6 separate regions of the Homo sapiens genome follow, and all the other regions are linked to region 3. Evidence: fine-mapped expression QTL. A gene starts in region 3. Each other region holds a variant in brackets. All regions are shown on one strand. Distances are between the middles of the regions. Region 1 overlaps C1GALT1 (core 1 synthase, glycoprotein-N-acetylgalactosamine 3-beta-galactosyltransferase 1). Region 2 has its middle 23 kb from the start of C1GALT1. Region 3 holds the start of C1GALT1 (core 1 synthase, glycoprotein-N-acetylgalactosamine 3-beta-galactosyltransferase 1). Region 4 overlaps LINC03016 (long intergenic non-protein coding RNA 3016). Region 5 has its middle 39 kb from the start of C1GALT1. Region 6 overlaps C1GALT1 (core 1 synthase, glycoprotein-N-acetylgalactosamine 3-beta-galactosyltransferase 1).

Evidence for each region. PIP is the estimated chance that this variant, and not a neighbour inherited with it, causes the effect.
Region 1: its variant is the best candidate, but not a certain one, in a credible set for the expression of C1GALT1 in anterior cingulate cortex (GTEx, PIP 0.72).
Region 2: its variant is the best candidate, but not a certain one, in a credible set for the expression of C1GALT1 in T cells (TOPMed, PIP 0.71).
Region 4: its variant is the best candidate, but not a certain one, in a credible set for the expression of C1GALT1 in whole blood (INTERVAL, PIP 0.57).
Region 5: its variant is the best candidate, but not a certain one, in a credible set for the expression of C1GALT1 in testis (GTEx, PIP 0.53).
Region 6: its variant is the best candidate, but not a certain one, in a credible set for the expression of C1GALT1 in whole blood (INTERVAL, PIP 0.69).

Annotation. Positions count from the first base shown.
Region 1 is chr7:7,237,507-7,242,124 of GRCh38, forward strand. C1GALT1 (core 1 synthase, glycoprotein-N-acetylgalactosamine 3-beta-galactosyltransferase 1) reads left to right here. Exons shown (of 4, transcript NM_020156.5): 3 at 749-1,416. Among named protein-coding and RNA genes, the nearest start is that of LINC03016, 15 kb to the right of the region's middle. The variant CCT/C (reference allele first, on the strand shown) is at 2,236.
Region 2 is chr7:7,156,844-7,162,048 of GRCh38, forward strand. It overlaps a transcript of C1GALT1 not described here. Among named protein-coding and RNA genes, the nearest start is that of C1GALT1, 23 kb to the right of the region's middle. The variant G/A (reference allele first, on the strand shown) is at 2,520.
Region 3 is chr7:7,180,326-7,185,530 of GRCh38, forward strand. C1GALT1 (core 1 synthase, glycoprotein-N-acetylgalactosamine 3-beta-galactosyltransferase 1) reads left to right here and starts at 2,219. Exons shown (of 4, transcript NM_020156.5): 1 at 2,219-2,495. RefSeq lists silencers at 1,959-2,568, 2,789-3,008.
Region 4 is chr7:7,264,746-7,269,950 of GRCh38, forward strand. LINC03016 (long intergenic non-protein coding RNA 3016) reads left to right here. Exons shown (of 4, transcript NR_108073.1): 3 at 2,492-2,697. Among named protein-coding and RNA genes, the nearest start is that of LINC03016, 12 kb to the left of the region's middle. The variant T/C (reference allele first, on the strand shown) is at 2,399.
Region 5 is chr7:7,140,661-7,145,865 of GRCh38, forward strand. No RefSeq gene overlaps it. Among named protein-coding and RNA genes, the nearest start is that of C1GALT1, 39 kb to the right of the region's middle. The variant T/C (reference allele first, on the strand shown) is at 2,797.
Region 6 is chr7:7,226,244-7,231,448 of GRCh38, forward strand. The region is part of intron 1 of C1GALT1 (core 1 synthase, glycoprotein-N-acetylgalactosamine 3-beta-galactosyltransferase 1); the gene reads left to right. Among named protein-coding and RNA genes, the nearest start is that of LINC03016, 26 kb to the right of the region's middle. The variant T/A (reference allele first, on the strand shown) is at 2,645.

The DNA.
Region 1 (4,618 bases), 57 kb after region 3:
TATAAGCTCCTTATTTCTTTGCAAACCTGTAGTTTAAAGAGCACTGCTCTAGACCATCTTGGAATTCCCATGTCTACCATTGTTCTCTTCTGTTTTTGATTGGTGGATTTACATTTTGGAATGAGGTATGTGACTATCAGAAAGTAATCTCAACTCCTGTGCTTTGACCTTTTACCACCTCAGGGTACTTGTAGAAATTCTTAATAGTGGATTATTGTGAACTTCAAAAATGAACTGCCACTTCAGCAGCATGTCTTTCCTGCTCTTCAGAAACTCGTTCAGAGCAGTGAGAAATTTCTGTCAGTAATCTATTAAAAACTGGCTGCTTTCTTTTATGAAGTGCCAAGCAGAGACTATTTAAGGCAGCATTTAGCATGCCTATGAAGCACCAGGAGAACTTATTAAAATGCTGATTCTGAGTCAGTAGGTCTGGGCCTAAGATTATGCATTTCTAACAGGCTCCCAGGTGATGCTGCTGCTTTTAATCAGTAAACTACAGTTTGAGACGAATTTAGATTATAATGTCAACTCTTACTAGCTCCAGTGATGTCCTAGATAACACTGACATGAAACCAATAAATCAGAGTGTCAGTTCACATTAGGATGAGTTTGCTTTCCTTTGGCTAAATCACTAATAGAGGGATAAATAGGGACTTTGAAATTAGGACAGTGCTTTCTTCAGTATAATTTATTAATATTTGGATTTTACATCTATGTAAATAACCTTTTAAAATGTTTTGTTTAATAGATGAGAACACAGACATTGCTGAAAACCTCTATCAGAAAGTTAGAATTCTTTGCTGGGTTATGACCGGCCCTCAAAACCTAGAGAAAAAGGCCAAACACGTCAAAGCTACTTGGGCCCAGCGTTGTAACAAAGTGTTGTTTATGAGTTCAGAAGAAAATAAAGACTTCCCTGCTGTGGGACTGAAAACCAAAGAAGGCAGAGATCAACTATACTGGAAAACAATTAAAGCTTTTCAGTATGTTCATGAACATTATTTAGAAGATGCTGATTGGTTTTTGAAAGCAGATGATGACACGTATGTCATACTAGACAATTTGAGGTGGCTTCTTTCAAAATACGACCCTGAAGAACCCATTTACTTTGGGAGAAGATTTAAGCCTTATGTAAAGCAGGGCTACATGAGTGGAGGAGCAGGATATGTACTAAGCAAAGAAGCCTTGAAAAGATTTGTTGATGCATTTAAAACAGACAAGTGTACACATAGTTCCTCCATTGAAGACTTAGCACTGGGGAGATGCATGGAAATTATGAATGTAGAAGCAGGAGATTCCAGAGATACCATTGGAAAAGAAACTTTTCATCCCTTTGTGCCAGAACACCATTTAATTAAAGGTTATCTACCTAGAACGTTTTGGTACTGGAATTACAACTATTATCCTCCTGTAGAGGTAAGTTTAGAAATTTTATTACTATGTCAATACTTGGACTGACTGAATTTTGTTGATAAAAACATGTTAATATGTGTATGTTTCTTTAGTACCAACAACAAGGACTCTTCCTTAGTCTTTTTAAATAGAGTGGCAGTATAACAAAATAGATGAGAACAGGGACATCAGCAATCAGCAGTAGTCACTTAGCAAATAGCTATTGATGCTGTTATATGCCAGGCACTGAGAATGTAGAAGTAAATCACAGCCAATTTCCAGTTCTCGTGAACCTTACATTCTGGATGAGGAGATATACAGTAAACAGGCAGACTTGTAAATATAAAATAGGATTTTAGTAGTAAGTGCCCTGAAGAAAAATAAGCCAAGTAAGGGGATGGAGAGTGACCCAGAGTGGGATGGAGTCCTCTGGTTTGGGTGATTAAGAAGGCCTCTCAAAGAGGTGACTTTTGAGCAGAACCCTGAGTGTTATTAGAGAGCAAGTTGGGTGAAGATCTGGGTAAAGAGCCTTCTAGTCATCAGGAGGATTTAATGGAGGTTCAGAAAGACCTAGAGTCAAATCCTGCTCTCTCACTTAATAGCCGAACAACCTTGGATGGACAGGAGCCTTGGATGACATCTGAGCTTCAGTTTCCTCATTTGTAAGATGGACATAATGTACCTGTCTTATTTAGTTGTTGTAATTACAACATAGTACAGCCCTTCACACAGTAAGCATTTAATAAGCCTTGGCTCACATTCCTGAGAATTTTATCTAAAGTGCATTATTTTAGGAAGTATTCCAGTAGTACAAATATTTCAGAATATACATTGTACTTATCC[CCT/C]GTCTTTACCAAATATTAATCTTTTTGCCACATTTGTTTCAGTTATTTAAAGAAGAAAATGCTATAGTATTGTTTTTCAGATTTTTAAATAAATATCTTTCTACAACTTGCCCTTTTCACACAACATTGAGATTTATCAATGTTAATTACATGTCTGCTGTGTTCACTATTATAAGCATTGCTTCAGTGAATAACTGAATGAGACCAGGAATCATGGAACCTAGCTTTTAGGCTCAGTTCTGTTACTAATAATGCCTTTAGGCAAGTCACTAGTTCTCTATGCCTTCTTTTCTGTGGACCTAACGTATAAATAATACACTTCATGCTACTACTGTCATCTTCATAAGGCAATGCTTTCAAATCATCATCTGGAACAGTGATTCTCAACCCAGGGCAATTTTGCCCCCAGAGGACATTTGGCAAGGTCTGGAGACATTTTTGGTTGTTACAGCTAGGAGGCTGCTACTGGCATCTAATGGGTAGAAACCCACTACATTATAAACCTACTAAATGCTAAACATCCTAAAATGCACAGGACAGCCTCCTACAACAAAGAATTACTCTAGCCCAAAATGTCAGTAGTACCATGGTTCAGAGACCCTGGCCTAGAACATCTGACCCAAGCTTTAGGTAATCAGCTTTAAAAGGAAACTTTTGATAGTCTGTTTTTCTATTTTAGTGAGAGTACTACTTTGGATGCTTTTTTGATGTAAACTTTTCTTAATATATTTTGACCATTCCAAGATGACTTGATCTTTTTTCCTTAATTCTGTATCCTTTTCCCATATAAAAAATTTACCCAAATTCAAGAATATAAACATGTAGCAAATACATCCAAATGCATATAAGATCTTACTAAGAGTATCTGATGTTGGATACACATACAGTAGTAGCAAAGGGACATCATAATTGGCAAATTTGTTCTTTCTCTAGAAATTTATCAAATTATGTTGAAGACCATAAAACAGAATTAGAATTCAGAGTACCAAAATTGACCCATCAATCTGACATTGCCTGTTCTCCCTCAGGAGATTCTTACATAAACCCAACGTGAAACTAAAATTCTATTATTATCCATCTATCATTTAGTAAGTTTTCTTCCCCCTAAATGAGTTTAAATCTTATACATACTTTTTTTTTCTATATACTAATTACTGAAAATACAGAAAATTTTTATCTAGCAAGTCAGGGTAAAAGATATTCTAATTCATGAAAGAGTTACATTCCTAAATTTCTTGTTCAGAACTGACTCTTAAGCAGTTCCCTTCCCACTCCACCTTCTTAGTAATAGACTTTTCACCAGAGAAGTTGCAGTGAGTCTTAATATGGTAGATTTAAAATATATGTGTAATTGTTTACATATATATCTCTCTACATGAAAAATTGACTTTTCTGTAGGTCAGAAATGGTCAAATATGATCTACTTTATTCAGTTTTATTTACATTATTCTATCTGAAACATATTAGTACATAAGTGAGGTAGAGAGCTCCTGATTTTTTTAAATTGTTAACTAATTATTCTACTACCATTTTTTAACTCATTACTGATTTAAAATGTCCCCCTTATCATACACTGTAACCTTACTTATAGTAGGATCTAAATCTGGGATTTCATTTCTATGCCATTGTTCTCATTTGATTTTGGCCCAGCACCATATTGTTTTGAACCTTGTAGCTTTACAGCAGTTTTAAGTTACTATTCTAAGGGCAAATTAACTCTTCTTTTTTTCTAAGTGTTTTGGCAACTCATTTCTTTATCTTTGCATACAAACTCATTAATTTAGGGACAATAACATCTTTGCCCAGGATTTTTTGTAAGTCACCTTTTAGGTCCTTTGGTCAAGTTTTATAAACTATTTCCATAGGTATGCAATATTTTTGTTACTGTTCTACTTGGGCTTTTAAAGACTTAACTTTTTACTGATATATATGAAAACTTATTTGTTTGATTTTCTTTTTAAGCATCTTTAAAATCTGGCTTTGTAACTGAATTCTCTATTTCTGATGATTCTTCACTTGAGATTCTTGAGTTTTTTTGGGTAACCATAATTGTCTGCTAGCTCTTGTTTTCTAATAATTATAGCTTTTTACTTTTATTGTCTTTTATTGCATAAATGCTTAACAGAATCCTGGCCATCCAGTAAAATATAAATAAATAAGAGCAATATAATTAATGCAGTAAATCTTATCAAAAATATTATTTTACAGAATATAAAAATTGCTTCCAGAGGTCAGCAATTTATAACTATTACTGGTCTAGTCCTTAAGTTTAATATGCACTGGACAGTATAGTAGCCACTAAGTATGTGTGGTTATTGAGCACTTGAAATGTGGCTAGTCCAAATTGAGATATGCTGTAAATAAAATACACACCTAATTTC
Region 2 (5,205 bases), 23 kb before region 3:
CTTCCAGAGATGTGCCTTCTCTGGAGACCCACCTGACCTCCCAGTGTTTGATCTTTTTCTCTCAACAAACAACAAAGGCATTGTAAGGTCGTCAAAATATTGGATTTACTCTCAGAGTTTCTATCCTGCTCAATTTGAATTTTCTTCACGGAAGTGTTTTCCTCAGGAAAGATATTTTATTGGCTATTTCTGAGTTATTTGAGTACATAAGCCACCCAGTACCTTCTGATCTTCCCATTTTCTCTTAGTGTGTGGCTGAGATATTTTTATTCTACTCAGCCATAAATTGGAGTCAGAAGCCTTCTCCTTTTTACTGTTATTTTCACAATATTTACTTGCTGAGAATCCCACTCAAGGTAAGACCTTCTCTTTTTGAGTATTTGTGGACAATTTCTGTATTGCAGTGTTCGCAGAACCTTCTAAACTCTTGTTCTCTCCTGTCCACTGCCTCTGCACAGCTGCTAAAACTAGGCATGCTCTGTATGAGTTCTACTGCTGTTGTCTGTGGTTTGGGTGGGGCAAAACCCACTGGCATTCTGAGGCTCATGGGGATGTTTTTTCAGTTGGCTTTCTGGAGGATGTGGTGAGTAGAACTTATCTTTTGCTATTCTAGTTGGTTCAGTATGCTTTTAGGAATGGATTTGGGGAAATTAAGAAACTGTACACCATAACCTTGCCCTGACTTGAAGTCAAGATGGGTTTATTTTTAAATCATGAATCTATCAATCAAGGCACTGATTCCGTGTTGCTCTACTGTCTTGACTGGCTTCTAAGATTATATTTATTTCAATATAGTTTCTGTTCAACTTAGTTAGGTGTCTATTAGCTTCCCTAAAGATACTCTTTTGAAGTATAATCAACCTCTATCTCACAGTTGCCAACATTCTTATATTGCTTTCATTTTCTTTACCACCAAACTTCAAATTTCAGTTTCTTCATTAGCTAGCCTCAGTAAGGGTATGTACATGTACATTCTGAACAATTCCTTCAATCAATGAGATCTCTTTTCCTTTAAAATCAGACTTTATTTGAGAACTGTCTTTTTGCTAAAATTGCTGTATTTTCCTCCCAGGCATGTTTCAAATTGTTCTTTATATTTCAGGAACCTCAGTCAGAATGCCTCCTTTAATGTTCAGATAACTTGCTAAATCAAAAGTAGTTTCCTCAAGTTGCTGTTGCATTAACTTAGCAGTACATTCCTTTCACATGAAAATTGGTGTATTCAAGCCTGTTACCCTCACATGACCACAGCTGAAATATTTCTCTGATGAATACAGTAAAATTACTATATCCCTCTGAAGTTTTGTAGAGTCCACTCTAGTCTTTAGAACCTGTTAGAATGTCCCTTCCTTTCTGCTAAAGAAAAGAAATTAAATGGGAGGTTAGGGTGGGGTTAGGAAGAGTGGTCTCTAGTCTCCAGTGATCTACTGCAGGGCTCTATACCTGACTCTGTTCTGTCTAATTCAATCAGCATTCCAGTATTCCATTAACACCTCCTATGTGCTGAGTTTTATGTTGAATAGAAAGGAAAAATAAGTCTCCAAGAAGGCATTGGAGTTTGATGTGGACTCAAATTCTGATTCTACTGTTCACTAGCACGTGGCCCGAGTCAGCTGTTTGATCTCTCTGAGTCTTAATTTCCATATCTGAGTATAACGATTCCTATATAACATAGCTATTGTAAACACTTAGTATGTTTTTTCATTATATTTTACATATTATATACACATACATTTTTATATATTTATATATTATATAAACATTTGTATAAATGTACAGGTATATACACATGTATCTATTTATATATGTATGCATGTATATGTATATATACATATATATTTCATCTATAATTTTATAAAAGCTGTATCATGTAGGACTCATATACGCATATATGACATGTAATAGGTGGTCAAATAAGTGTTTGTTCCTTTTGGATAATGTTATGACCTACTTGTAATTAGATAACATTTCTTTCCCTTTTTGCCTACCCAAACACACAAAATGGCTGTTAGACGGCCTATTGATTTTCTTAATGAATTAAAATTAACTGTGTTTTAAGGCATTCTATCTCAAACTGTGTGACATTTGTGAAATATATTGAGACAACGAGCAGGGTTCTTGATCTGAGGGCGGTCATAAACTATTAAGGGGTTCAGGGAGTTTTTGAATCTTCTGAAATTATATGCAAATAGGGCATGTTTGTGACTTATGCATTTTTGGAGTGAAGCAATTCATTGCTATCACCAGATTTTTAATGGGACTTAGAAACAGGAAAAAAAAGTCAAGAATCATGAAGGTGTTATAAAATCACAGCTGGGACTCAAATGATTGTATGCTTTTGGAGGTCAGAAACTGTCTATGTAATTTTCTTTTTACAATGCTTGGCACAGAGCCAGAAAGAGTTAAGTACTTAATTTTTATTTTTGAACGACTGTAATATTGACCACCTTTTCTCTACTAGGAGGGTCAGATATAAAAAGTAGAACTAAAAAATAAAAAGGAAGAGATTGGAAAGACGC[G/A]GGACAAATACCAAGAGCAGTAAAAGACTAGGAAGCAAAGAAAAAGAAGGAAAGAAAGAAAACAGGAAGAGGAGGGGGAGGAGGAAATAGAGTGGAACAGAAATAGAAATGCAAAGCGGAAGAGAAAGAGAAAGGAAAGAAAGTGGTGTGTTGGACTGCGCTGATTTGTTTCCTTCCTTCTTGTCCCCTTTCCCCAATAATCTCTTCAAGGCAAAAGGTTCCCCAGAGGCTCAATAGAAACAGGACTCTTACAGACTAAATGAAGGTGTATGAATTCTAATTTTCGCTTAATTTGATAGTAATGCCTTTGGAAAGTCACTATTTTTACACGTAGATTTTCTTTATCTGCAATCTTTAGATAATGTTAGCAAAGTTAAAAAAATTCTCTGTCTCCATGTAAGCTATATTCAAAAAATTCATTTTAATGTGATTCAATTCAAAGAGGGCATTTTCCTATAGAAACACTGTTACACAGAGTATCACTACAGTTCATAAAAACATACTTAACATGTAATGGAAGAAAAGGGAACTGGCCTTTCAGCTATCAGCTCCGAGCTTGGTAAACTGGAGCACAGCATCTCTTTTCATTTCCTTTCTCACATCCTAGGGAGCTTTGCACCAATCCATGTTCATAAATTGAGGGATATGTCTGCACTTCAAAGATCAATGGCAGCAACACTGTGAACGGCTGTTCATACATAAGTAAAACTAGTTAAATTTCCTGATTCTTACTCTTTCCCTCAGCTCTTTCCTGCCCCACATGTGTGTCCTTCTTGTCCCTAGTACCTTTCCACATTTTATATTGGGTACACGTTCCAATAGCCTCATGGAACTAGAGATCTGTTTCTTCTCAACTCTGGAAAATTCTTTCTATTCCATTTCTGCATATGACCTTTACCTTCCATCTAGATCTTTTTGGTCTTCAACTGTATAGAGTGTTATTTCTCTCTTGAACCTCCACCTTCTACCTCCAACCCCTAATCCCTGCCATTTGACTAATCAGGTATATCCTTGACAAAAGTCTGATGTACAAGGGGACAGATAATGTTACCTTGATTGACAGTGTTCTAATACATATATTAAGCAGTTGATGTAGAACAGGCGGGAAGACAAAATGTTACCCTGTTTCTCATGAGAAAGGAGGCTACACTGCTCTTCTTAGGAAGTAGGAAGATAGATGCAGAGACAGATATTTAGAAGGGGAGGAAAATAAAAATTGTCTATGTGTCTGCTAACCTAAATCCATTCAGTAAAAGAGAAGTCAAGTTCAGTTCAAGACAGAAGTAAGGTTGGTTCCAAAGGATGGACACATACATGCAACTCATTCCTGGGTACACAAAAGATGAAATAGAGGGCGTGTGTCGAAGTACATGTCCAAAGGTATGAAGTAGCTGCAGGAATTTTATCAGAGAAACCAGTCCCCAGGACTAATGTTAACAGATGACAGAGGGAAAGCTGTCTGAATTATTTGCCAGTAGACTACTGGTCAAGAGGACTTGGAACTATAGCTGAAAAAAACCTTAGAACTATACACACAAACACAGTACTAATCAGCAGAAGTAATGAGTATTGAGAGAAAACAATGAGCCATAATTTACAATCAACTTAAATAGAATTTATGCAACTGAAATCTAAGACAGAATAATAGGCAGTAACTTCCAGTTTATAATAATGACTACTTGTGTAGTCATTACTACACAAAATTACTGACTACTTGTGTACTGACATGTATTTTGCACAATGATATGACAGACTAAGACAAACTGAATAGTTTGCAAGTAAACTACTTGTCAAGAGGACTTGGAACCATAGCTCTATTGACATGTAACCATCCTTACCAAAGACAGACTCAAATTCTCAGAAACGTTTGCTTCTATTTTGGGGAGATCATCCAAATCTATAAACTTGTGAGGCTTTAACAGTGGGAAAAAAAACCTTACAACTCACTTAGTCTAACTTCTTTACTTTAAAGGTAATTGCCCCTTGGATGAAAATCACTAACATTTTAGTATAAACATATTTACAGTGAATAACTTTACATTTGCTAGCCAAAATTTGTTGCCAAGGGACTAAAAAATGTGGCAATAAATGAAGTACTTGTTAAAAAGATACTTAGTTTTAAAATTTTTGTCAGTCCACTTTTTATTATAAGAGTTGCTGATAAAAATAACTACCATTTATTGAATACTTACTACATGTTAGACCCTTTGCAAACATCCTCCCCTTTAACCAGCACAACCACTAGAAAAGACAGGCATCATCATCTTCCTTTTACAAAGTTGAGGACCATGAGGCTCAGAAAATAGTAGATAGTAGTTAGTAAATAGTAGAGCCAGGATTAAAATACATGTTTTCTAATACTTCATACTCTATCAGATTGTGTCACAATGGTATTAAAAAAATTAGAAATATAGGAAAACATGAATACTTTCCATATTTTCTATGGTAGGTGCTATTTCAAGTATCCTTAAAATATGTGTGCAAGTGCAGAAGATTCTATTGAAGTTTACCTTAAGGCAAAGACAGTCATAAAGAGGTCAGAAAGAGGGCTGACTTACTGAAAGTACTTCAAAATTCTACTCTCTCATTAAATGTGAACAGTTCAAAAACTTTAGCAATTGTCATTGATCAGCATGGTGAAATGATTATGGCCTCATTTGTGAACAGGCCTGATAGGTTGCACTGG
Region 3 (5,205 bases):
TGTGTTCAAGGAGATAATTGCACAATTGTGCAAAAGCCTATGGATAAGAATGTTCATCAGAGACTTTTTTTATGGTAGTAAAAACTTGGAAACATAAATGTCAATCAATAGAATACTGGTTGGATAAATGATGGTATATCCATTTAACAGACAGTATGCAACTTTTAAAAATGATGTTATTCATGACTGTTGTTCACTGTGCAGATAATACGATCCAATTTATGAAATATTGTATTTATATGTCTATATGTGCTTTTATTCTTAGAGAGATGCCTAGAAGAATGTAACACAAAATTTAAGAAATGGTTATCTCTATATTATGGTATTTGGACAGATTTTAACTTCTTTGCATTTTTGTTTAAATTTTTTAAATTTGTTTGCATAAGCATGTATTGTTTTTATAAAACAATAGTTATTAGCTGGGTGCCACAGCCTGTGCCTGTAATCCCAACTACTGGGGAGGCTAAGGCGGGAAGATTGCTTCAGCCTTCAGCCCAGTTATTCGAGGCTGTTGTGTGCCAAGATCACACCTGTGAATAGCCACTGCATTCCAGCCTGGGCAACATAGAAAGACCATATCTCTTCAAAAAAAAAAAAAAGCTATTTTCAAAGAAAGGCAGGGTGGGGGCAGGGCTGATTTGGTCCAGTATTGTTTCTAGCAAGTAATTTTCCAGGATAAGGCTGTGGCTGACCTTATTTTAGGAAAGGGTTCTAATCTTTGCTCAATGGAAAAAAGTGTTATTCTTTATTAATTATAACTTTTAATAAAATTAAAACGAGATAAGGAGTTGTGAGTTTTGGTTTCTATTTGGAACACTGACCCCTGAAAGAGTTCTCCTTCCATGTTTCACAATGGATGGCAAGACATTGCGGAAAGGTGGAAGGATGTTGCGGAAAGGTGGAAGGATATTGCGGAAAGGTGGAAGGATATTGCGGAAAGGTGGAGGGGGAGGAGGCTGAGCAACAACTGTATACAAGTTGGGGAGGAGTAGAGAATGGACGTAATCATGTAAGGCAGAGAAGTCTGGACCCATGAGCCAAGGAAAGAGCAATAACCTGGACATCAGGATAGCTGCACTTCTCTTCTAACATGGACCTATCAGTTTATCTTTCTGGCCTTAGTTTTGTCATCTGAAAAATGAGACATCTGTATTAGAATCACTACATGTGCTTTATGTTTCACAATTCTTTTGGATATATTGATGCAATGTCCTGAGAAACTACACTACAGCTGAACCTAAGCAAATTAAAGGAAAAATAACAATAACTAATGTATATTATTATTTGTCTCAGGCATTCTAAGTAACTTGCCAATAGGTGGAGGGACCAAGATGCCAGCCCGGGCAGTCTGATTTCAGAGCCCATACTCTTTAACAACCATGCTGTAGAGTACTAAAGAACCGCTTGGATAGGGCATTTAAAGGAAGCAGGGTAGCTTTCCTATTCTGGAACGTGGTCTTGTAGATAATGGTTAACGCCAGTAAAGACTAAACCTTACCCTCACCTCATGACTATTGTGGGGTTGCCTCAACAGGTGGCAGCCTCCTCCCCCTATTCCAAAGACAACTTCCTTATTCAGAGCCCAGCGAAAGGGGAGATAGGTTTTGTTACGCCCCTAAGAAGCTCTTCCGGCCATTGCCCCACAGAACCGAAGTGCTGACAGAACCAAAGACGAAATGTGCCTATAGAAAGCTTTCTGGTATCATTATCTCGGTTCTCAGCTCTTCCTGGTTCTCACATGATGACCCAGCACCCGTATGCATACTTCATCTTATTACTTCCTTTTATTAAGCCCAGAGAGATACTGAGTAAAGAGAGCACGGGGAGAGAACAGAAAAACAAATGAACGGGTTAAGAGCAGGCTACAGGCCACAAGAGTCCTGCAGGGTTAGAGCCTGTACCTCAGACAAAGGTCCTTCAAGCATCCCCTTTCTCGCTCCCTATTGTTACCCTGCTTTCGTCCCGCTCAAGGTCTTGAAGCTAGTGCATAACCTTACAGCAGGATCAGAAATGCGGAGAGTAGCAGACACAAGCCGCAAGGGGGATACAACAAAATCTACTGCTCGTGCAAGATCCGACTTCCCAGACCCCTTCGCATTAGGGCGGAGCGTGCACCCGGCAGCCAATCCCCGCTTCCTCACGTCGCCGTATCCCCGCCCACCGCCCCTCCCGCTCCGCCCTTCCCTGGGGCTGGTGCGGCGGCGGAGACGTCAGCGCCAGGAGACTTCGGGTGGCGGCTGCGCCATAGGCGGGCCACGGCCTGGACGCGCTGCGGGGAGGGGCGGAGCGAGCGGGCGGGAGCGCGCGCTGGGCCCGCCTTGGCCGCCGCCGCTGTGCTGCCGCTGCCGGGGAATAATCTGGGCGGCAGCGGGCGGCCTCGGCTAGCGGCCACGAGCCACTTCTGCGGCTGCCCAGAGAAGCAAAGGTCACCAGTCCCAAGTCGTCCCCCTCTCCGCCCCCCAGGAGGGGCGAGAGGGAGCCGCAGCTGATGTCAGGTATGGCCGGCGGAGGCGCCCTCAGGCTACGGGTCCAAGGTCTCGTCTCCCCTCGCCCTCCCCCCTCTCCGGGTTGGTGGGGAAGCGTGGAGGATGGAACCAAACCCCGGGCGCGGCGGAACAGGTGTCTCGGGGTCAAAGCCGGGCTGGGGTCGTCCGGGCTCCTGAGGAAGGCGCGAGGACTTCCCGCTCCCGGAGCCTTAGCGATCTGCCACAGCGTTCGGCTGCGTACCCGGCCTCAATTTTGTGGACATGTACCCTCCTCTTCGTCGTGGGTCCTTCCCTTGTGCCCGCTCGCGCCCCTCTTCTGCTCGCGCGCTGCCTGGCGGCGCGGCGGGGCGCGCAGTGCGCCCGGACCGGACCACTTAGCGGTCCTGCCCCGCCGGGCCCTCCCAGTCCCTCCTCCCGGGCCCTCCCCGCCCCGCCGCAGACCTGTGGGTCCCGCCGGACTGGGCGCCCAGGTGTTGGGCACCTTCGCCGGGGAGCCACTCGGCTGCCGCGCCGCCTGAGCGCCCAGCGAGCGGGCTCCTTCCAGAGGTGCCTGGAGCTTGCTTGGGTCTAGCTTGGATCATCAGGTTTGTCTGTAGCTGATTTATTTCTTTAAGTTTCCCTGCCGCAGAGTGAAGCAGATACGTGTGTGTTGGGGCATTCGGGGCATGGAGGAGGAAGAAAGGCATTAAATTTTTTTTTTTTGCTTCTGCACCCCATTTTTCCCCAACAAATTGTGATGGAATTAGTAGGTGTTGACAAGTTGTCCATTTGCTTTGAATTTGGGTAAGTCGTACACTCTTAAAAGATGACCATAATTTAGCGCTGTGGATTTATTCTTTCCTGGTCCTTACCGTCTCCCCACCCCCCACCACCCCGCATTTAAAGCAAACAACAGTATCAGCAACAAAAAACCCACACATCCTGGAAAAATTCTCAAGATTTCTAACCTAGTTCTCTATATCCATTGTACATACTACTGTATTTCCTTTTAACGCTTTTTTAAGATAGAAAACTATTGTGCTAACCATGGATTGATTTCATTATGAATTTAAAAGTTATAAATTTAGAACCATAATGAATCAATGAATAATTGGCCGATGTGTAAGGGAGAGAAATATGTTAACTTACTAAAAGTTGGGCATAGAACATAGCTCTGCCAGGAAAAAGTGCGCATAATTTCAAGTTGCTTCATTCTGGTGTGAGTTTGGGAAGTTGGAATCCGAGTTTTTAGAAGGTATTTAGATGACAGCTTTTCACCCTCTTAGGTAAATGGCAGTTGAGCTTAATGCCCATGATGCTGTATGTTCTAAATATTGTATATAGTACACTATACTTTCTACCAGTCTTTATATATAGATGTACAGTTTAAGTGAATATAAAGTTTCAAGTTAGCAAACAGTTAACTCTTCACCTTATGGTAAGTGAAACAATGACTTAGTAAGGAAAGTATGACTCATTTAAAATTCTTCATAAAGAGAATAATTTTTCAGTATTAGTGGAGAGCTACTAAATGCCTCTCAAATTTGCCTGGAATGTGTATTTTTTTGTATCTTCCTACTTAGGATTAAGCATTTTAGAAATATTTTGTGTTTCCTATTTAAAGTTTTTCATAATTATGCTTTTTAAGACTAGACTACGTTGAGTAAATTCAATATCCAGTTATTCTTAAAATTGTATCACAAATTTATTTCAGGGTACACATAATGAGTTCTTGTTTACCTAATAGAAATATGAAAAAGTATGTCACTAGGCACATGCTACTATTTGTGTATTGATTTGTGCTAAAATTAAAATTGCATTATGCAGTTTAACATTATAAGCCATGGTAATTTAGAGTCTTTGTGTGGTAAAATCATTGATTGGAATTTTTGTGACAGTGCAGCTATAAATAAACCTTAAGTAGAAAATGGAAAGCTTGATGCTGAAATTAAATTCAGATAGGCTTAAAAGTTTAAGCTTCCCAATACAACCATCTTTTCTTTTAGAAGATTTCTTAAGATTTGATTAAAGACGCTGATGTACAAACTATAGCAAGGCTGAAAGAAAGGTATGACAAAAATCTTTTTACTTCAAATTCAGTGGGATTAAGTCATTCTTTTAAAAGAAGAAAGGTGGGGAGCGGGAAGGAGACTTGTTCCATAAAATGAGAAGTTAGCCTTTTATCTTAAAATCTGGTTAGAGAGGAACTCCAATGTGTACTTAAATTATTTTGCAGCTAATTCAAATGTCCAAGGGGAATATATATGCCAAAATCTGTAATATGTGAGAATAGGAAGAGGGAGAAAAAAAATATATAAAGAAACTGGTGTTTGTGATTTAGGGAAGCACATAAGAAGGTGGGGGAAACTGAAAGGAAAGTCTAAATAAATTATCTAGCACCTGTAGTATGTGCTGCCTTGCACATTGAAGGGGCGTGTTGGGGGCAACGAGAGGCAATATTAGGGAGATTCTGGAATGGGAAACCTGTATATTAAAGCACATTTAAACGGCTAGATGTTGGATAATAGGCAGAATTTGAAATTAAATACAGCTTGGCATAGTTATTTGCATTCTTGGTCATTGTATTTTCTAGGGCTGCGGTAACAAAATACGACAAACTGGGTGATTTAAAACAACAGATTTATTGTCTCAGTTCTGGAGGCAAGATGTCTGAAATCAAGATGTAGGTATGGCCATGCTCTCTCAAGGTTCGAGGGGAGAATCTGTTCCATGCCTCTTA
Region 4 (5,205 bases), 84 kb after region 3:
TAGATGCTAACACTTCACCTGGAGATTGCTAAATACCAGCTGATAAGATTGAAGGCTGGATGAGAGCCTCTGGGGAAAGGGTTGCTGAACAGCAAAGTGGACAGACAGCTATGGTAGGCAGAATTTCTGAAAATGCCCTGAGGGACGTCCCATCCTAATCCTCAGAACCTGTGAAGATTGAGATATCACTTCTATGATTATGTTATAAGGTACAATTAACCTTAAAATAAGGAGATTGCCTGCACGGGCCTAGTGTAATCGCATAAGCCTGTAAAATTAGCTTTTCCAAAGAGGGGCAGAAGAGGAAGTTAAAGAGTTGCTGCTTTGAACATCGAGGGGACCATATGAGAAGGAATGTGGATGGCCTCTAGGAGCAGAGAGGACCCCAGCTGACATCCAGCAAGAAAGCAGGGACTTCAGTCTTAAAACCACAAGGGTGGAATTCTGCCAATATTCTCAATGAGCTTGGAAGTGGATTCTTACCCAAGCCTCCAGGGAAAAGCCCTGACAACACTTTGACTTTGGCCTGTGAGACTCTTGAGTATAGAACCCAACCTAGCCTGCCTGGAGTTGTAACCTACAAAAGCGTGAGATGATGAACTGGTGTCATTTTAAGCTGCTAAGTTTGTGGTAATTTGTTGCTGCAGCAATAGGGAACTAGTACAGTAGCCAAGACAAACAAGTCTACTTGTCACTATTTTTGAAAAAACACTTTCTTTGGAAGAAACTGGAATCTGCCTCTAAAACCATCTGGCATCTGGCATAAGGGGAAGGCGGACTGAGATCCAAAACTATTATGTGCCGGCTTGAGCTTCAACTTTATGTATACCAAACCATTTATACCTCACACCTACCCTCTGGGACGAACACTATTATTATCCCAGTGTTATCTCCATGGGCTTCTAACTGCTGTTCGGAGAAATTAAATGATTGGACCAGTAAGTTCTCAATCCCAGCTGTGCACCAGAATCACCGCATCACCTGAGTTTTGTTTATTTTGCTTTGTTTTGTTTTTAAGCTAATGAGCTTTTAGAGAGTCAGGATGCTGAGGCCTCAACCCTGACCCACTGAATCAGGGAGGCCCAGACCTCTTGCACTTATTAAAGCTCTTGGATGATTCTGATTTAACCCAGATGTTTGGCAACCAGTGGTATAAAGTGTGGTTAATGGACACCAGCATCAGTTGCCCTCAGGGTGGTGGTAACCGCTGATGTTGTGTCCCTAACAGCCATCCTCTGCTACTTCACTTACAGCAGGACCTCAGGTGTGCTCAGATGGCTACGTGCCTGGCCAGAGGGGGTTCTCAATTTTCAGCTCTAGTCATGTTATCACATTTCTCTTTCCCAATACCATCCTGTGAAGGTTAATTTCGTGGAGCAACTTGACTGGCCATGGGGTTCCCAGATTAAATATTATTTCCAAGCGTCTCTGTGAGAGTGTTCCCAAATAACATTAGCATTTGAATCAACAGACTTAGTAGGTTGCCCTCCCCGACATGGGTAGGCATCATCTAATCTACTGAGGGTCTCAATAGAACAAAAGGTGGAGGAAGGAGGAATTTGCCCTCTTTTTCCTGCCTCACCCCTTGACCTGGGTCATCTCATCATCTCTAGTCCTTAGACTGGGATTTACACCATCAACTCCTCTGGTTCTCAGGCCTTTGGACTTGGACTGAATTACACTGTCAGAGGCATTTGAACCAGAGTGACTCCATCTTGCATAGGGGCTAGGTAAAATAAGGCTGAGACCTGCTGGGCCGCATTCCCAGGAGGTTAGGTGTTCTAAGTCACAGGATAAGATAAGAGGTCAGCACAAGATACAGGTCATAAAGATCTTGCTGATAAAATAGGTCACAGTAAAGAAACTGGGCAAAACCGACCAGAACCAAGATGACGACAAGAGTGACCTCTGGTCGTCCTCACTGCTCATTATATGCCAATTATAATGCATTAGCATGCTAAAGACACTCCTACCAGGGACGTGACAGTTTATAGATGCCATGGCAATGTCAGGAATTCACCCTATATGGTCTAAAAAGGGGAGAAACCGTCAGTTCTGGGAATTGCCCACCCCTTTCCCAGAAAACTCATGAATAATCCATCCCTTGTTTAGCATATAATCAAGAAGCCACAATAAGTATAAGCAGCAGAGCAGCCCATGCTGCTGCTCTGCTTATGGAGTAGCCATTCTTTATTTCTTTACTTTCTTAATAACTTACTTGCTTTCACTTTACTCTATGGACTTGCCCCAAATTCTTTCTTGTGGGAGATCCAAGAACACTCTCTTGGGGTCTGGATCAGGACCCCTTTCTTATAACACCACCACCTGCTTTCTTGGGTCTCCAGCTTGCAGATGGCAGATTGTGGGACTTACTTCTTAGCCTTCATAACTGCATGAC[T/C]AATTTATCATATTAAATCTTATTTTCTTTATATATATCTCCATCCTACTGGTTTCTCTGGAGAACCCTAATACATTTCCCATCTCTCTGCAGCTAGAATCAGCCAGAAACATATAAGGAGACTCCACCAGGAGTGGGGAGTTCTTGGGAAAGCTTTTGCTTCTGAAAAAAGATAAAAGTACACAGGAGAGCTGTCTGGTGCCATTCCTTGAGCATGTGAGAGACTGTGTCACCGGGAGCAGCAGTTATCTGTGGCCATAAGTTGAGATGACTGGATGAAATGCTAACATGTTGAGAAGGTAGGACAAAAAGAAAGAACCAGGGACACTGATGACATTGTTGAGGTGCATCAACCCTAGAACCATTATTAAGAGATTTATTATGTGAAATATTATTATTTACTGTTTTACTACTTGTAGCTGAAAGCATTTCTAACTGTGTACAGGACTACTTTTAAACGCAAGAAAGAATTTCTGGTGTTGAGGACTGGGTTATTTGCATTAACAACCATCCAATTCTTTGTGCACTGAAGTCTAAGTCACCCACATTCTAGGGTCACCTACACAGATAGTGATGAAGCTGCTTCTAACTGGTCCATGTTTTTTCCACTCTATGATAGTAAAAACAAATAGAAAAACATCTGCATTCCTCCCTTTTTACACACTCCCTGCGGCAATATTGGTATTAGACATAGCAGAAAATAATAACTAAGAAAATAACTTGAAGAAAACATGTCTACAAGCTTTTTGTTAAGAAAAAAAAAAAAACCCAATCTTTAAAGCCCGTATTTATTATACAAATAAATCAGAAATAATAGGTATATGGGGAGAAATGGGAGAAGAGAAAGGAAAGCCAAGATAGTGCTCATTTTTCACATTAATTCCAAAGGACAAAGGATGGGATGGGAGCTCGGGGGTTTCTGAAAATGCTCACCACAATCAGTTTACACAACTTTTCAGAAATATGTTAACTCTGTATCAGAGCACACTTTAATAATCTAGATATATATAGAGACACAATCTGTTTGTCTAAAGAAGCTTCCAGATTTTCCATTTAGTGTGTCTTTTACCTTTACCATAACCCTGAGTCATCTCTGATAGTTCTCATTTTGGAAGTGATTCCATGCATAGAAAGTTGTGTGTGGGCTCCCTAAGGACAGTAGCTGGGTCCCTTTTGTTCATTGGCTTACCCATAGCCTGCAGCACAATGCTTTGAACATAGGTAGTATTCAACCAATGTCAACTACAAGATCCCAGAAGACCCAGAAGACCCCTTACCTTTAGGAATGTGTGTCTTGTGAGGCACCTGGGATATTATCGCTAGCTCATTTTCTCAGACAAAACACAGAACAGTGACATAGTTTTGTAAAGGTCACAGGGCTAAGCAGCTCTCTCCAAATTTAGTCCTGTGCACTTTTCCCCAGATTTATTCCCAACAATGCCTGCTACACTCTTTAAAAACCAGCCTCAGACACATCTGTTCTATGAAAATTACATGGAACAGAGAAGTAACTATTTCCTCTCAGTGAACAACATTCTGCCATTTAAAAGGAAAAAGTGAACTTTGTGGGTTCCTCTTGTATAATTAGGATTTAATTTCCTTCAGATGGAGATGTGTAACTGATATTGCATATTATATACTGCACAGTCACTAATATAGAGAGATTCAATATGCATTCACTATGACAATGCATCAAAGAACTTTTTTTTTTACCCTTTTATCTTCATATCCCAGTTTGCTTTGCAAAAAGAATTGGCATTTCATTAAATATATAAATAAATAAAAGACTATTTTTTCAAGATTCACTAAACAGGTGTTGCTTACCTTAAGGCAAAATTTTTATAAACTAAAAAAATTCAGTTTCTGTAACTGTTCCAACATGAAAAGGACTAGTTATTCACCTGAGAGGAAATGTCTTATAATGAAGACTTTTTATTGAATCTGGATTAGTCCCTTGCCCAACACTAATACTGACATTTTTCCTGCTGAGTTGCAAGTGGCAATTCACTTTTGGAAGAATTTATGGGAAAATATAACATTATTCTATTTCCCAACCACAAGTTTTGTTTATTCCTCACACTATATAGATGGTGAGTCTCAGAGAACTGGGGGCTTCTTTGCTCCTTGATGGGGAAACCCAGCTGTGTGCTTCACGCAGGGCTGTCCATAGCCTGCAGCACAAGGCTTTGAACATATGAGGGGGTGTTCAACCAATGGCAACTGCAAGATCCCAGAAGGCTCCTTACACTGTGGGGACTGACAGCCTCTTATTCCCCAGTAACTCCTGTGGTGTTTCCAGCTTCACTCTTACATTGGCAAGTAGGGATGGAACGCGCTGACTGCCGTGTGAATGAACTGTGTACCTTGTTACTTCAAACATTGAAACTCTGATATTAAATTTTTTTTTTTTTTTTTTTTTTTTTTTTTTTTCAGACGGAGTCTCGCTCTGTCACCCAGGCTGGAGTACAGTGGCGCGATCTTTGCTCACTGCAACCTCTGCCTCCCGGGTGCAAGCGATTCTACTGCCTCAGCCTCCTGAGTAGCTGGGATTACAGGCACATACCACCACACCCAGCTAATTTTTCTATTTTTAGTAGAGATGCGGTTTCACCATGTTGGTCAGGCTGGTCTCGAACTCCTGGCCTCGTGATCCACCTGCCTTGGCCTCCCAAAGTGCTGGGATTACAGGCATGAGCCACCTCACCCGGCCCATTAAATATTTTTTAATGTGAGAAGATATACTTATTATCATGAACATACAAGGGAGGGATTTGATCACAGCCGAGCATTGCGGACATGTGACTTTG
Region 5 (5,205 bases), 40 kb before region 3:
AAGTCCTTGCCCATGCCTATGGCCTGAATGGTATTGCCTAGGTTTTCTTCTAGGGTTTTTCTGGTTTTAGGTCTAACATTTAAGTCCTTAATCCATCTTGAATTAATTTTTGTATAAGGTGTAAGGAAGGGATCCAGTTTCAGCTTTCTACATATGGCTAGCCAGTTTTCCCAGCATCATTTATTAAATAGAGAATCCTTTCCCCATTTCTTGTTTTTGTCAGGTTTGTCAAAGATCAGATAGTTGTAGATGTGTGATGTTATTTCTGAGGCCTCTGTTCTGTTCCCTTGGTCTATATCTCTGTTGTGGTACCAGTACCATGATGTTTTCGTTAATGTAGCCTTGCAGTATAGTTTGAAGTCAGGTAGTGTGATGCCTCTAGCTTTGTTCTTTTGGCTTAGGATTGTCTTGGCGATGCGGGCTCTTTTTTGGTTCCATATGAACTTTAAAGTTTTTTCCAATTCTGTGAAGAAAGTCATTGGTAGGCTTGATGGGGATGGCATTGAATCTATAAATTACATTGGACAGCACATCCATTTTCACGATATTGATTCTTCCTATCCATGAGCATGGAATGTTCTTCCATTTGTTTGTGTCTTCTTTTATATTGCTGAGGAGTGGTTTCTAGTTCTCCTTGAAGAGGTCCTTCACATCCCTTGTAAGTTGGATTCCTAGGTATTTTATTCTCTTTGAAGCAATTGTGAATGGGAGTTCACTCATGATTTAGCTCTCTGTTTGTCTGTTATTGGTGTATAGGAATGCTTGTGATTTTTGCACATTGATTTTGTATCCTGAGACTTTGCTGAAGTTGCTTATCAGCTTAAGGAGATTTTGGGCTGAGAGAATGGGGGTTTCTAAATATACAATCATGTCATTTGCAAACAGGGACAATTTGACTTCCTCTTTTCCTAATTGAATACCCTTTTTTTCTTTCTCTTGCCTGATTGCCCTGGCCAGAACTTCCAACACTATGTTGAATAGGAGTGGTGAGAGAGGACATCCCTGTCTTGTGCCAATTTTCAAAGGGAATGCTTCCAGTTTTTGCCCATTCAGTGTGATATTGGCTGTGGGTTTGTCATAAATATCTCTTATTATTTTGAGATATGTTCCATCAATACCTAGTTTATTGAGAGTTTTTTTAGCATGAAGGGCTGTTGAATTTTGTCGAAGGCCTTTTCTGCATCTATTGAGATAATCATGTGGTTTTTGTCTTTGGTTCTGTTTATGTGATGGATTACGTTTATTAATTTGCATATGTTGAACCAGGCTTGCATCCCAGGGATGAAGCCAACTTGATCTTGGTGGATAAGCTTTTTGATGTGCTGCTGGATTCAGTTTGTCAGTATTTTATTGAGGATTTTCACATCGATGTTCATCAGGGATATTGGTCTAAAATTCTCTTTCTTTGTTGTGTCTCTGCCAGGCTTTGGTATCAGGATGATGCTGGCCTCATAAAATGAGTTAGGGAGGATTCCCTCTGTTTCTATTGATTGGAATAGTTTCAGCTCCTTTTTGTACCTCTGGTAGAATTCGGCAGTGAATCCATCTGGTCCTGGACTTGTTTTGGTTCATAGGCTATTAATTATTGCCTCAATTTCAGAGCCTGTTATTGGTCTATTCAGAGATTCAACTTCTTCCTGGTTTAGTCTTGGGAGGGTGTATGTGTCCAGGAATTTATCCATTTCTTCTAGATTTTCTAGTTTATTTGTGTAGAGGTGTTTATAATATTCTCTGATGGTAGTTTCTATTTCTGTGAGATCAGTGGTGATATCCCCATTATCACTTTTTATTGCCTCTATTTGATTCTTCTCTCTTCTTTATTAGTCTTGCTAGTGGTCTATTAATTTTGTTGATCTTTTCAAAAAACCAGCTCCTGGATTGATTGATTTTTTTGAGGAGTTTTTTCTCTCTCTATCTCCTTCAGTTCTGCTCTGATCTTACCTATTTTTTGACTTCTGCTAGCTTTTGAATTTGTTTGCTCTTGCTTCTCTAGTTCTTTTAACTGTGATGTTAGGGTGTCAATTTTAGATCTTTCCTGCTTTCTCTTATGGGCATTTAGTCCTATAAATTTCCCTCTACACACTGCTTTAAATGTGTCCCAGACATTCTGGTACGTTGTGTCTTTTTTCTCATTGGTTTCAAAGAACATCTTTATCTCTGCCTTCATTTCATTATTTACCCAGTAGTCATTCAGGAGCAGGTTGTTCAGTTTCCATGTAGTTGTGCGGTTTTGAGTGAGTTTCTTAATCCTGAGTTCTAATTTCATTGCACTGTGGTCTGAGAGACAGTTTGTTGTGACTTCTGTTCTTTTACATTTGCTGAGGAGTGCTTTACTTCCAACTATGTGGTAAGTTTTGGAATAAGTGTGATGTGGTGCTGAGAAGAATGTATATTCTGTTGATTTGGGGTGGAGAGTTCTGTAGATGTCTATTAGGTCCACTTGGTGCAGAGCTGAGTTCAAGTCCTGGATATCCCTGTTAACCTTCTGTCTCATTGATCTGTCTAATATTAACAGTGGGGTGTTAAAGTCTGCTATTATTATTGTGTGGGCATCTAAGTCTCTTTGTAGGTCTCTAAGGACTTGCTTTATGAATCTGGGTGCTCCTGTATTGGGTGCATATATATTTAGGATAGTTAGCTCTTCTTGTTGAATTGATCCCTTTACCATTATGTAATGGCCTTCTTTGTCTCTTTGGATCTTTGTTGGTTTAAAGTCTGTTTTATCGGAAACTAGGATTGCAACCCCTGCTTTTTTTTTTTTTTTTTTTTTTTTGCTTTCTTTTTGCTTGGTAGATC[T/C]TTCTCCATCCCTTTATTTTCAGCCTATGTGTGTCTCTGCATGTGAGATGGGTCTCCAGAATACAGCACGCTGATGGGTCTTGACTCTTTATCTAATTTGTCAGTCTGTGTCTTTTAATTGGAGAATTTAGCCCATTTACATTTAAGGTTAATATTGTTATGTGTGAATTTGATCCTGTCATTATGATGTTAGCTGGTTATTTTACCCATTAGTTGATGCAGTTTCTTCCTAGCATTGATGGTCTTTACAACTGGGCTTTTTTGCAGTGGCTGGTACTGGTTGTTCCTTTCCATGTTTAGTGCTTCCTTCAGGAGCTCTTGTAAGGAGGCCTAGTGATGACAAAATCTCTCAGCATTTGCTTGTGTGTAAAGGATTTTATTTCTCCTTCACTTATGAAGCTTAGTTTGGCTGGATATGAAATTCTGGATTGAAAATAGTTTTCTTTAAGAATGTAGAATATTGTCCCCCACTCTCTTTTGGCTTGTAGGGTTGCTGCCAAGAGATCTGCTGTTAGTCTGATGGGCTTCCCTTTGTGGGTAACCTGACCTTTCTCTCTGGCTGTCTTTAACATTTTTTCCTTCATTTCAACCTTGGTGAATCTGACAATTATGTGTCTTGGGGTTGCTCTTCTCAAGAAGTATCTTTGTGATGTTCTCTGTATTTCCTGTATTTGAATATTGGCCTGCCTTGCTAGGTTGGAGAAGTTCTCCTGGATAATATCCTGAAAAGTGTTTTCCAGCATGGTTCCATTCTCCCTGTCACTTTCAGGTACACCAATCAAACATAGATTTGGTCTTTTCACATAGTCCCATATTTCTTGGAGGCTTTTTTCATTTCTTTTTACTTGTTTTTCTCTAAACTTCTCTTCTCACTTCATTTCATTAATTTGATCTCAATCACTGATACCCTTTCATCCACTTGATCAAATCAACTACTGAAGCTTATGCCTACATCACATAGTTCTCGTGCCATTGTTTTCAGCTCCATCAGGTCATTTAAGGACTTCTCCATACTGTTTATTCTAGTTAGCCATTTGTCTAATCTTTTTTCAAGGTTTTTAGCTTCCTTGCAATGGGTTCAAGCATCCTCCTTTAGCTTGGAGAAGTTTGTTATTACCGACCTTCTGAAGCTTAATTCTGTAAATTCGTCAAAGTCATTCTCCATCCAGCTTTGTTCCATTGCTGGTGAGGAGCTGCGATCCTTTGGAGGAAAAGAGGTGCTCTGGTTTTTAGAATTTTCAGCTTTTCTGCTCTGGATTCTCCCCATCTTTGTGGTTTTATCTACCTTTGGTCTTTGATGATGGTGACCTACAAATGGGGTTTCGGTGCAGATGTCCTTTTTGTTGATGTTGATGCTATTCCTTTCTGTTTGTTAGTTTTCCTTCTAACAGTCACGTCCCTCAGCTGCACGTCTGTTGGAGTATGCTGGAGGTCCACTCCAGACCCTGTTTGCCTGGGTATCATCAGCAGAGGCCACAGAACAGCAATATTGCAGGACAGCAAATATTGCTGCCTGATCCTTCCTCTGGAAGCTTTGTCTGTGAGGGGCACTTGGCTGTATGAGGTGTCAGTCAGCCCTTACTGGGAGGTGTCTCCCAGTTAGGCTATACAGGGTTCAGGGACCCACTTGAGGATGCAGTCTGTCCATTCTCAGAGCTCAAACACTGTGCTGAGAGAAGCACTGCTCTCTTCAGAGCTGTCAGACAGGGACGTTTAAGTCTGCAGAAGTTTCTGCTGTCTTTTTTTCAGCTATGCCCTGCCCCAGAGGTGGAGTCTACAGAGGCAGGTAGGCCTTGTTGAGCTGCAGTGGGCTCCACCCAGTTCGAGCTTTCCAGCTGCTTTGTTTACCTATTCAATCCTCAGCAATGGTGGCTGCCCCTCCCCCAGCCAGGCTGCCTCCTTGCAGTTTCATCTCAGACTGCTGTGCTAGCAGTGAGCAAGGCTCTGTGGGTGTGGGACCCACTGAACCAGGCACAGGATATAATCTCCTGGTGTGCCATTTGCTAAGACCATTGGAAAAGTGCAGTATTTGGGTGGCAGTGTCCAATTTTCCCGGTAGAGTCTGTCACGGCTTCCCTTGGCTAGGAAAGGGAAATCCCCCAACCCCTTGTGCTTCCCAGGTGAGGTGATGCCCCGCTCTGCTTCGGCTCGCCTCTGTGGGCTGCACCCACTGTCCAACCAGTCCCAGTGAGATGAACCAGGTACCTCAGTTGGAAATGCAGAAATCACCCATCTTCTGCAACAATCATGCCGGGAGTTGCAGACTGGAGCTGTTCCTATTCAGCCATCTTCAATGTTTTCCTGACGTTCCCTCTGTTTTAATCTTCACAACAAAAAGTCACCTGCAGCCAGGTGCGGTGGCTCACACCTGTAATCCCAGCACTTTGGCAGGCTGAGGCAGGTGGATCA
Region 6 (5,205 bases), 46 kb after region 3:
TATGGTTAGAAGAGGGAATATATTTTGAATACATAAATGCAGCAAATGAATGCCATAATCCAGAGCAAAATTAGAAGTACCTGATTGTCACCTTGGCAAAATGTGGTATAAAGTGTTAAAATTTAAAAAAAAAAATAACTAGAATTTCAGGGCTTTATTGTGAATTACACTCACTGACTTCCCGAAAGCCTGAAAGGAAGAAGACGTGCGCTCATGGTAAAGGGCATTAAAATCTTGGTGAAAGAATATTCTTGAACTGGTGGAGTGGCTGAAAACCAAGCATAAGAGAAGAGGTTAAAGGCTGTATCCTCAGAATTCTCTGGCACCCATGTAAGAAGACCATGGAGTAATATTTACAAAGTTCTTAGGGAGAAGAAAGTTTGTGCAATAGCAGACATTCTGAAGCCTGCAAGAATTTCAGATGTGGCACCGATTAGCGCCATTAAAAAAAACTGCTTGCTGAAACCCAGCTAACAAAAACATGATATTAATGAAAAACTCAAATTTAGAGGAGTTGTGATTAAAAAGGACTCTTGTTGAGCATGGAATCTAGTTTAATGTAGATCCAGGATTAAGCAGTCATGGAATTACAGTTCATAATTCATATAATGTAAACTATGTACATTTTTACCAAATAAAAGCAGTTAACAAAAATTGGTTGTGGCAGAGGGAGTGTGTGTGTATGTATATGTGTATATATATATTTGTACATGTGTGTATCCATGCTGATTTCCACATTTCACAGCAAGAAATCAATAGATAGTGCCTAAAATTGAGCTTATTTAATGAGCCCTCCAACTCCTTTCTGTTTTTTTGTAAACTTTTCTTAATTTTTAGAGGGATCCTTTAGAGGATGGGGGTCATATTACAGATGTCTAGGTGACATTCAGATTTTTTAGATTCCTTTATTTCCTATAAATTCAAATAAATCTAATATGTTAATTCTTTAAAAACGAGATGACTAATATAATTCCCATTCTGTAAAACTGTAGGGTTATGGTTTGAATATTTGTCCCCTCTAAAACTCATGTTGAAATTTAATTCCCAGTTTGGCAATATTAACAAGGCCTTTAAGGAAGTGATTGGTTTATGAGACAGACCTCTGCCCTCATGAATGGTTTAATCCATTAATGGGTTAATAACTTAATGGGTTATCATGGGAAGGGAACTGTTTTGGCTTTATAAAGAAAGGGAAGGCCGGGCGCGGTGGCTCACGCCTGTAATCCCAGCACTTTGGGAGGCCGAGGCGGGCGGATCACGAGGTCGGGAGATCGAGACCATCCCGGCTAAAACGGTGAAACCCCGTCTCTACTAAAAACACAAAAAATTAGCCGGGCGTAGTGGCGGGCGCCTGTAGTCCCAGCTACTTGGGAGGCTGAGGCAGGAGAATGGCGTGAACCCGGGAGGCGGAGCTTGCAGTGAGCCGAGATCCCGCCACTGCACTCCAGCCTGGGCAACAGAGCGAGACTCCGTCTCAAAAAAAAAAAAAAAAGGGAAGAGGAACAAACCTAAGCTAACACGTTAGCATGCGTATCCCTCATGCCATGTGATGCTCTGTGCCACCTCAAGACTCTTCAGAGGAGAGTCCTCAACAGCAAGAAGGCTCTTACCAGATGTGCCCCCTTTGGCCTTGGACTTTCTAGCCTCCGTAACTGTAAGAAATAAATGCTTTCTCTTTATAAATTACCCAGTTTCAGTTGTTCTGTTATAAATACCAGAAAATGGACTAAGACATAATAGCAAAGTGGTTAAGAGTCTGAATTCCTGATTCAGATTGCTAGTGTGACTCTCTGTGTCTGAATTCATCTGTAAATGGGAATACTAGTCCGTACTTTATAGTTTGCAGATGCTCTTAGTACAGGGTTCAAATGTTAACTGTAATTACCTCTCCTATTTTTGTTATTGCTAGAGAGAAACCTGTAATGATAATCACAAAATATTAATAATTGTTGTTTCTGGGTAGTAGGACTTGTGATGATTTCTTCCTTCTAAATCCTTTTTTAACAATGAATAGCATAAAGCTGTCCCTTTAAAAATAAAATTAAAATATAAATTTTAGTTGTCCCGGGAGTTCTTTTGTATCTGAAACCTCAGTTGTCAAGCTTGGAAATCTGTACTTTTAAAATATCCTCAAGCGATTCTGATTACACATCAGGTTTGGAAGCACTTGGCATAAAGAACTTCCCCCACCCAATTCAAAGAAATAGTATTTAAGCCCTCATAATGTGCAGTGTGGTTAAGCTGTGTCTTTTTCCAGTCTAGTCTACCTCAACACTCTTGTGGACATGATTTTTGCCAAAAATCTGAGTGAGCTTTGGGATGCATTCTACCCCCATGAGATGGCTATTTTATCCCAGGAGCAGGAAAAAAAAAAATGGGAGTTTACAGTTATTTAGTCATAAGGCCGGAGTCCTTTAAATTGGAAGGGAATGTGGTAAACACAACACAAGAGGAGCCAACACATTCTGAGTGTGCTGATACTCTGGGGGAGAAGAGTAAGAGAGTATGACAGGCATCAGACAGCATCACAAAACATTTTAAAGTTAAAAACAATTACGTAACACCAAGAAGTCAGTTTTCCTTACATTCACTCCAGGATAGATGCCTTGCTTAAAAAGTGCCTCTTCAGCTAAGAAAAACTGTG[T/A]CCATAAGTACTTCAGTAGCTTTCCACAAACAGTAACTGTTTTTGTGTTATAGAAGTAGGCTTGTTCTGAAGCTCAGCATGTCCTTGGAATATGATTGAGTAGCATGTTAGTATTCATAGTTGATGGAGCTGGGTTAGCACTTCTTTAACTTCAGATATCCATATGATGATAGAAATAGGAATTTTCTCTGGTCCTGCAGTCCTTCCTCTTCTCAGTCACAGTGCTTTCTGCCTAAGTGGTACTGAATGGCATTGTGACTACTGCTTTCTTCTCCAGTGCCAGGAGCGGTAGACTCTGCAGCAGTAAAATACTGTCTTTGTTCTTTTCTGAGATGGTGAAGTGGCTGTGTATGGTATTAAGGCAAAATCACAGCTAGGACAAAAAGCAATGGAAAACCAAGATCAGTGTGCTGTAAGGCAAAGTGTTAGTGAGAGAATCAGAGGATGTAGAGAGTGACAACTCAGTATCTGCTAATGCTCCAGGTTCACTGCTTCAATCGTATTCTGCTTGTCTTCCTCCATAAGAAATTAAGAGTTAAAACATCTTTCATTTACTTCTCTTGGCTTCATGTTTTCAATTCATGGTACTTTCATATCACATACCTCTATTGTAGATTGTCTTGATCATGTATACTGCTAAAGGAAGGACTTGTATAATATCGAACAGATACTTGACTAATCAGTTCTCTCTGGCTGTTTGAATGAAATTTCAAACCAAGATTTCTGGTTAGAGCAAGGTCTAATGAACTGGTCCTCAGACAATCGAGATATTTAGAATTTCAGAACAATCACTTAAGACAGGAGGGATATGTTTTATTGTATCTTTTGGATATAAAGATTACACTAACGGCCAACCTGAATGAGGGAAAGGGGGCAGTAGGGAGGCAGAATTTGAGACCCCCTCATCAGAGAAAACAGCAGAAAGACATGGTAAACTTGTTTCTGGTTTTCCTGTGGCAAATTTGATTGGGTGTAGAGAGAAGGATCGTTGAGTGGGGCTATGTACTCATCATCCATGAAGGCCTACCTTTCTGAACTTGAAGGTACAGTCAGGATAGAGCAAAAGGTGTAAACATGTATCTGATAGTTTCAGATGGTTAATTTACATCTCAAGATACTGGGCAGCTTTGCTTATACTGTGCTGTTCCTTCACCTCTCCTCTTCCTCTTAGGGTTTTTCTTCCCAAACTGGAATTACAATTCAGGAGAGAGCCTGAAATATAAGATATATAATGCAGCATAAGCATGGTGTGTTGTCATGGCATGTCAATTTTACTTGTAGATTTTGGGATATTTTTATATCAAATATGAATATATTAAGTATGTACTTAATGGGATAAAGACACATGAATGGGTTTTTGTATACACTTTTTACTGAAATAAATGTTAATACAGAAAAGTATGTAAAATCATAAATGTAGAGCTTAATGAATGTCACAGAGAACAAGCCATGTAACTACTAGTTTTTTTTGTGGTATCAATAAGCTTTCCTTTAATTACTGTTTGTATGGTATATTTTTCTATTATTTTGCTTTCAACTTTATAAATCTATTTAATATGTGTCTCTTGTAAGCTGCATGTAGATGAGTTTATTTTTCTCGAGTCTGGCTGGCAATCTTTATTTTTTAATTGTAGTTTTTAGTCTATTTGCTTTTAATATAATCATTGATATGTTTGGTTCTAAATCAACCACCTTACTATTTATTTTCTATTTGTCTCATCTATTCTATATTCCCTTTTTTTTTTTTTTTTTAACATTGCCTTGATTTGGGGTATTTTCCCATTTCATTTTTTTGTATTTGAATTTAATTATATTGTTTTACTGTTTGTTTGTTTAAAGATTATATTAGACATCCTTGGTCTTTTAAAGGCTATTATTAATCAGTTTTTTTTTTTTAAACAACTCCTGGACAGTGAAATGACTTTAGAGCTCTTAAACTCTATGGATCCTCCTTATACTTTTTGATGCCAGTTTTGTAATTTGTTTTAATGGTAATAATACTAATATCTTGTGAGACTTTCAAAAAATGTTTTATTATAGCCAATATTTATTTGGATTTACTTACATACATACCCTTTTTATGACTCTCCCTTCCTTCCTACATCTCTGAATTTTTATCTGAAATTCTTTTCCTTCTGCCTGAAGAATTAGAAATAGAACTGTTAGTGATAAATTCACTTAGGTTTTGTTTTTCTGAACATGTTTTTAAGGCTCATTCTTGAAGGACATTTTTGCTGGATACAGAATGCTAGGTTGGTAGTTCTGTTCTTTTAGCACTTTAAAAATAGTTCACTGCAGTCTTGATTCTGTTGTTGCTGCTAAAAAGTCAGCTGTCAATCTTATTACACCTTTGAAGTTTTTTTTTCTGTCCTTGGTTTTCAGTAGTTTGACTGATGTACTTAGGTAACATTTTCTTTTTCTTTGTAATCTTCATTGGGTTTTGTAGATTTTTAATGTGAGGGTTGGTACTGTGTCAGTTTCGGAAAATATTCAGTCATTATTTCTTTAAATACCACTTCTCCTGAGTTATGTCTCTTCCCTCAAAGGTTCCAGTTAACACT